Homo sapiens: one gene and its partner. The protein of the gene in region 1 purifies or fractionates together with the protein of each later gene. This does not show direct contact. Each region holds a gene or a part of one and is shown in the gene's direction. Other genes may lie near its edges. The genes, in order: COL9A2 and MPPED2.

Evidence for each region.
Region 2: the proteins of COL9A2 (region 1) and MPPED2 fractionate together in Homo sapiens (co-fractionation; one large-scale study listed by BioGRID). This does not show direct contact.

Annotation. Positions count from the first base shown.
Region 1 is NC_000001.11:40,303,787-40,307,601, reverse strand, and holds part of COL9A2 (collagen alpha-2(IX) chain precursor), read left to right. Parts: intron 1-102; coding exon 103-156; intron 157-1,200; coding exon of another isoform or gene 1,201-1,318; intron 1,319-1,414; coding exon 1,415-1,459; intron 1,460-1,833; coding exon 1,834-1,887; intron 1,888-2,754; coding exon 2,755-2,808; intron 2,809-3,072; coding exon 3,073-3,126; intron 3,127-3,210; coding exon 3,211-3,282; intron 3,283-3,502; coding exon 3,503-3,538; intron 3,539-3,629; coding exon 3,630-3,674; intron 3,675-3,762; coding exon 3,763-3,795; intron 3,796-3,815. UniProt on the Homo sapiens protein: Structural component of hyaline cartilage and vitreous of the eye.
Region 2 is NC_000011.10:30,534,243-30,538,057, reverse strand, and holds part of MPPED2 (metallophosphoesterase MPPED2), read left to right. Parts: intron 1-1,882; coding exon 1,883-2,064; intron 2,065-3,815. UniProt on the Homo sapiens protein: Displays low metallophosphoesterase activity (in vitro). May play a role in the development of the nervous system.

The DNA of each region.
Region 1 (3,815 bases):
TTCTTGCCTCTGGATCTCAGTTTCCCTACCTGCATCTGGGTAGAAGCCATGGCCCTCTGGCTGGAGCTTTAATTTGTATCTTTGGTTATCTGTCTATCCCAGGGCAGTGCAGGACAGGCGGGACAGCCCGGAAGTCCAGGCCACCAGGGCCTAGCGGTAAGTGTCAGGTGGAGCCACAGGGGCTGGCCAGGGGCTAGTGGCTGATGAGGTTAGAATCCACACACACCCGGGGCTCTTGCTCAATCACCACCTCTTGCCTTGTTACCAACTCTGTGGCCCCTGGCCTGGCGAAGGCTTCATTACTTGGACAATTACTCTAGCCTTCTCTTTGGCCATTCCAGTCCTCCATGTTGGCTAAATGGGATCTGACCATTTCTGCACTATAGCACCTTCCATGGCTCCCCACCGCCTCCAGGAAAAAGTCATTCAGTCCAGTCCTTCAATAAGTAGTTATTGAGGTCGGGTGCAGTGGCTCATGCCTATAATCCCAGCACTTCAGGAGGCTCAGCTGAGTGGATCACTTGAGGTCAGGAGTTCAAAACCAGCCTGGCCAATGTGGTGACACCCCGTCTCTACTAAAAATACAAAAATTAGCTGGGCGTGGCGGCTCATGCCTGTAATCTCAGCTACTCAGGAGGCTGAGGCAGGAGAATTGCTTGAGCCCAGGAGGCGGAGGTTGCACTGAGCCAAGATTACACCACTGCACTCCAGCCTGGGTAACAGAGCAAGACTCCATCTCAAAAAAAAAAAAAAAAAATAGTTATTGAGTATCTGAGGTATACTAAGTGGCAGGTAAACAATTATAAATAGGACAGATGCAATCTTTGTCTTCATGGCTCATCTTACCATTCAATGACCACCATAATCTGACCCCAACCTGCCCCTCCTGCCATATCAGCAATGGCCCCTCTCTGTCCTTTCCCTTCTCAACAGGCCTTGGCTTTTCTGCCTCCACACCTTTAGGCCTTTGCTGGTCCCTCTGTTTGAAATGCCCTTTCTGGTCTCTTTGTGCCTTCTTATCGTTCAGGGCCATCTCCATTCCATACCTCCTGGAGTCCAGTCCATGGGAGCCTGCCCTCCCTCCCTGTGGGGGTACTGAGTGGCCAAACCTGTTTCTGTGCACACATGCAGACTTGTGTTCCTGCGTGCACTCACATGGGCTCAGGCACCTGAGAGCACATATCCATCTCTTCCACGTAGACCCCAGGTCCTGGAAGACAGGCCATTCTCTGTGCCCCACTCCTCTGCCACCACTGTGGGAATGTACAGTTAAGTTCATCATGCCGTGGCTGGACCTTCTGTTGTTCAGCTCCCACAGGTGGGGGAAATCTGGATTGGGGATGGGAAGCAAAGCAGCAGGTGCATGGGGCTCCCTCATGCCAGGGCAGAAACTGACTTCAACTTCTTTCTGCAGGGTGTGCCAGGCCAGCCTGGGACAAAAGGAGGCCCTGGAGACCAGGTGAGGCGATCCCAAGCTGGGGACAGAATTGAGCAAGGAAGTCTGGGGCCAGGAAGACAGCAAGGCCCAGGCCTCAGCCAAGTCTCAGAGGCTCAGCCAGAACATAAGCCCCTTGGGCCTAACCACCTCCCTCCTGCCACCTCCCACCCATCATGCACTCCTCAGCCTGCCTCAGTGCAGATAGGATGGCATGGCTTAAAATCCAGAGGAGAAACAAACAGGAAAATCAGGAGCCAAGAGGATTGAACCAAGAATACCCTCTCCCCCGTCCCAGCTCATCTGGTTCCAGGCTCTGTTTAGGCTTCGTTGGGTTTCCCTGAGGCCAAGGGCCTGACTGGGCCACCCAGACTGACCTGAGAACTGTTTTCCTGCAGGGTGAGCCGGGCCCGCAGGGCCTTCCTGGATTCTCTGGTCCCCCTGGGAAAGAGGTAAATGCCCCCTGCACTGACACAAGGGTTCCTGCTTTAGGGTGAGGCCATGGGGTGGAGCCCTAACCTAGGGAGAGCTCCGAGTTAGTCTGGCTCTGCCCTGACCCAATGATTCAGGGAAGCTCTTTCTCCTCCCTGGGCCTGTTTCCCTATGTACATTGCAGGGAGGGTGGGGACTGGCTCTGTTCTGGAGTGTGACTTTCCTAGATGGCCAAGTTGATGGGCTGGGAATCCAACAGGCAGAGTTGTTCGTTCATTTATTCATTGCATAAACATTCACTAAACACTTGCAACTATGAGTCTCCTCTTCATATGGAGGGTATAGTTTAATGGAAGAAATAGACATGAAATAAATGATCACGCCGGGCGCGGTGGCTCACGCCTGTAATCCCAGCATTTTGGGAGGCTGAGGCGGGTGGATCACGAGGTCAGGAGATCCAGACCGCGGTGAAACCCCGTCTCTACTAAAAATACAAAAAATTAGCCTGGGGCGGTGGCAGGCACCTGTAGTCCCAGCTACTCTGGAGGCTGAGGCAGGAGAATGGCATGAACCCGGGAGGCGGAGCTTGCAGTGAGCGGAGATCGCGCCACTGCATTCCAGCCTGGGTGACAGAGCAAGACTCCCTCTCAAAAAAAAAAAAAAAAAAAAAAAAGAAAGAAAGAAATGATCACATGATAAGTAATTCAAATTGTGTTGGGTCCTTTGAAAGAAAACTACAGGGACCCAAAACCATGGAACAGGTGGTCTGGGAAACCTTCCCTGATGAAGCAAATTAGCTGAGACCCAGGGTAGGGAGGGGCTGGCCAGGTGTGGAAGGGTGGGTTCCACCAGGTCAAACGCTTAGCCCCAATTTCTCCTTCCTCCAGGGAGAGCCAGGGCCTCGAGGAGAAATTGGTCCCCAGGGCATCATGGGACAGAAGGTAAGTGCCTGGCACAATGGCCCCTCCCCGGGGGCCTCTGCGGCAGCTGGCACTGCTGGATACAGCATCTGCTCCGTGCAGCCCGTGAGATGCCTCCCCAGGCAGGGCCTAGGTTTGCTTTGCTGGTCTGCCAAGTGGAGAAAGGACCCCCTGCCAGTGACAGCAGGAATGGAGGGCACCCTGACCATGCGGTGCCAGGCCTCGGTGCGGGAGGCTACCCCTGCTGAGAGCTGCTGAGGTTGTGACCTTCTCTTTCCATTTCAGGGTGACCAAGGCGAGAGGGGTCCAGTGGGGCAACCAGGCCCTCAGGGAAGGCAGGTGAGTGCAGGCCAGCTAAGGTGGGCAGGGCGTCATATCCAGGCCCCTCATTCCATTTATTCCTTTGGTTTCTTTTCTCCTCAGGGCCCTAAGGGGGAGCAGGGCCCCCCCGGAATTCCAGGGCCCCAAGGCTTGCCAGGCGTCAAAGGAGACAAGGTGCCAGATGGGGCTGGGAAACACCTGGGAAAGGGGCCCTATAACAGGGGGAGTGGGGTCGGCAGGACTCAGATCCTTCCGGAGCCTCCAAACCTGCGGATCTCAGGGTTCTGGTCTGGTCGGCGAGGCGGAGTTGGAAAGAGGGGTGTGGCCGAAAGTTAGGTGGGGGACCCCGTGGAGGGGGGAGCTCGCCAAACCCCTCACTGCCCGCTTTCTCCAGGGCTCCCCAGGGAAGACCGGGCCCCGCGGCAAAGTGGTGAGTTCCAGCACCCCTGTTCCCAGCGACCCCCAACCCTGCTCTGCGTCCCCGCCGCCACCGCGCGTCTGACCCGTGGTTCTCTCTGCAGGGTGACCCAGGGGTGGCCGGCCTCCCCGGAGAGAAAGGCGAGAAGGTGAGCGCGCGGCCTAGGGAAGGGCGGGGAGCGGCGGCTGGCCCCGGGGTCCCCGCGGCTTCGTGACCGCTGCTCCTTGTGCCTGCAGGGCGAGTCCGGCGAGCCGGGGCCCAAGGGACAGGTGAGTCCTCCCCTCCCGGC
Region 2 (3,815 bases), on another chromosome or scaffold:
CTTATCACTTTTAGAGAGTGACACAGTCAGCCCCAGCAGGGAACAGTCATTCATTCTCTGGGAAAACTACTTTTCAAAGACAGGAAATGTTGCTAAGATTGTAAGCACCGAGACTGAGTGTAACCAAGTCTCAGTGATGGAAAGGAAGACATCAAACATTTTTACATCTAAAAAAGCAACATCGGCTATAATGAGGAGGGTTTCCAGGTTACTAATGAGATCACAGTGGATTAGTGAATTTTCTACGTGGTAACAGCATATTAATTTCTAACCTTTCTAACAGAAAAAATCCATTAATTTTTTGCGGAAGTTAAACTTTCTTTTTGGGCTTCCAATTAGACCCACTGTGATAACCAGTTCACAATTCCTTCCTCCCTACTCTCCTCCTTTCCTCCCTTCCTTCTTGCTCCTCTTACTTTCCTTCTCCGACACAGATAAGAGGAAATAAAAAGGTTAGTCATTGAAGAAATGTGGGACTATCCAGGTTGCACACTGATCTCTTCTATTTCCCTCACTGAAATTGTCATTGTTAAAACAGATTGTTTCTTTAAGAAAATAAATAAATAAAGGAAAAGAGAAAACAAATTAAACAAAGCCTGTAGAGGCAATATGTTTAGGGAGTCTTGTGTGGAGCTTTCAGTGTGTTCTCTGCTGCATGTTAACTATCAAGGGTTGGGGCTGGGATATGAAATATTGTTCCTTATTTAATGTTTCACACTCTAATCTCTGCATTGCATATTTGCTTCTCTTGTGACCTTCTCTTTGCATTTATAACTGCTTCTTTTCACCTATAATCCGAAAATAAGTGTACATTCCTACAGAGAAATTAAAGGAGGCTGTCAGTGTAGAGTTAATATAGTTAAAGCATCCTTAACTCTGCGACAAACCCCTTAAATAATTAAAACTGTATGCTTGAAGAGTCAGATTTGCATTCCTTTACCAAGTTTATTTAGTACACTTTGTTACACTCAATTAAATGAGGATGTTCTGTTTCATTTTCTTTGCTTTGGGTTGATCATTTTGCCTTTTGATTCTTATGCCCTGGTGTAATTTCACAGTGCTTAGGTCTCTAAAACTATACATATATTAACGTATATGTAGATATATACATCCCATTAAAAGGCTTAATATTTGTACTGAATAGAATCTTTGCCCAAGGCATTTGAGCATTCCTGGTAACCTCAGGTGTAACTGGGACTGCAGATAATTCATCGCAGTAAAAACGAGTTTGACAAAGTTCTTTTAACATCCAGTGTCTTTTTTTTTTTTTAATTTTTAAAGCTCTGTTATTTTGGCATCACCTTCTCTCCCTACGGTTTGATTTGTGAATAGCAAAAACCAGAAGATACAGGTGTTGAATGGTTGTGGAAAGGAAATTAAATATAAGTGCTATCTCTCCACATCTCAGTTGGCAGAGCATGTGCAGACTGCTCTCTGTAAATTAGTTCATTGCTTAAGTTATGCATGTTTAAGAAGGAATAAATTAGTTATCTATTTCCTAATGAGTAGTGGGATCAATTGGAGCATGATGAGAGAGAAATAGCATAATTTTGCTTCCCCAGTTGAGGTTCAGTATCCCTAAACTTCACCATTAATCACTCTATCAGTTTCCTGGGTTATTTCAGATCTATATGTAAGATATTCATTCCTTTTAATTTTCCTACCAGGTAAGTAAGTCCTTTTGAATTTGCCCAGTGGGTTTGTAAATGGGTGATGCTGTCTCTGTTACACCCAGAAGTGTCCTTAATTACAGTGGGCCCTTCTGCCTTTGCGTCAGTTTGTCTGGGTGCATTCACGAATAATAATAAATATGTATGTGCGACGACAATTTCAAGGGTTCTAATATGTTTAACTGTTATGGGATCTGTTATGTCTACTTTAGGGTCGACCCCATCCCATATGACACTCCAAAACCAGCGGGCCACACGCGGTTTGTCTGCATCTCAGACACACACTCCAGAACAGATGGTATCCAGATGCCTTATGGGGACATCCTTCTCCACACAGGCGATTTCACCGAGCTGGGACTGCCCTCAGAGGTTAAGAAGTTTAATGACTGGTTAGGTAAGGAATGATTGCGTTCTGGCGGCCCCAATTAACCTTTCCCGTCCGAGTGTCACTCACTGCGTCCTAATTGAATTAGAGCACTTGGAAGCCAGCTCAGCCATTTCTCGTATGATATGCGGTGGTGTCTAGCTTTAATCCAATTCTGTTAATTAAAGATGAATTTTTAGATATTTAATTTTACTGTGCATCCTTTCAGTGCCTGGCCTTGGTGGCTCTGGGGCAAAGGGATGGAAAGCTTTGAAACCCATCTCATCTCACTCATTCTGCTTTAATGAGGGCATTCATTGGCACACAGGAGACCTAGAATCATATTTTTAATTCATTGGCTCTGCAATCTTTTTTTCCCCAGATATTATAAGCAAAGATATACAAATGACCTACTAGTAAGAGAACATTTCTAAGAAATGAAGGGGTTATAAAAGTCCTTATATGAAACAAAATTCCTATAGCACAGTGCTGCTTGGGAGCGGATTTCCTAAGTGAGCTGGAGGGTGTTCTAGACCCCTGAAAACATGAGATATATTACTGTAAAGTAAAAACTTGGGATGTGAAGTTGCCCTGTGTCCTGTAAAAAGGATAATAGCAATTTTCTGGATATTGTGGAGGCACCCACAGGTCAGTTACTGCAAAATATTGGATCCTGGTTCCTCTTAGCGGAGGGAAAGAAGTGCAAATGTTCTGAGATTTTAGAATCCCTAAAGACGAAAGAATTATATAGTAAAGAGCAGACGTCACTCTGGGAGCGTAACATTGTCAATAATATGTCAGCCAACAAAAATAACTTGGGAGATTTAGGCAAAAACATTACAACTTTGTTTTCCATCAAACTAAAGCAGGGTTTGAAAATTTTTTAAATTTTCGATTAAATGATAAGACGTGTTAGTGGAAAGATGATATTTTAGAATTGTAAGCAATAAACTTAACTAATAACATAATTATTTTGATTTTTCATGTGACTTTGCTCATCTGTTCACATTTTGTATGGTTGACATCTGAGTACATATCTGCTTTTTGACTTTTGGCTGTTTTCATTTAATAGTATTTATTGGTAAGACTTAAAACGTTTTTGCATAATTTTCATATTCTTTTTAATAGCAGCATGGCATTCATATGGTTGGCTATGCCTTTCTTTAATAAGACATCTCTCTAAAAATGAGCATTTAAATTGATAACAATTTTTCCTCTGGTAGCTAGCACTGAAATGTGCATTTTTGTTTGTGTATGTCGTTTTGTTTCTATTGATTTATTTCTTAGGGAAAAATACTATACTTAATTTGCTAAGTCAAAGGATATGAAATTCTTTATGGTTTTTGCTACATGTTGGCATGTTGCTTTTCAAGGGCACTGTAGCTGTGTGTTTCACTAGCAGTGAATGAATGTATAGGTACTAGTTTTATCATGGTCTTGGCAGCATTGGATGTTGGAGCATTTATATTTTGTGCTGTTTTAGTAGGTACTTAATCATGTTATTTAAAATGGCAAGATATTTTAAATATTATTTAGCATAATCTCATTTTTACAGATGACACAGAGATGTAGAGAAGTTAAGTGATTTTTTCAGTTTCATAGTGGCAGAGTTGGTTCTAAATCCAGATCTTTTCGCTTATGTCTTTTTTCTCTACAATAATCTCTTTATTTTAGCAACTTTCATCCATGAACTATTAGCAGTTAAAATTATTGTTGGTAAATCTTGAGAGTTTTGAACTAGTCTGTGTCAATGGAATTTCAACACAGAAATTATCGAGCTG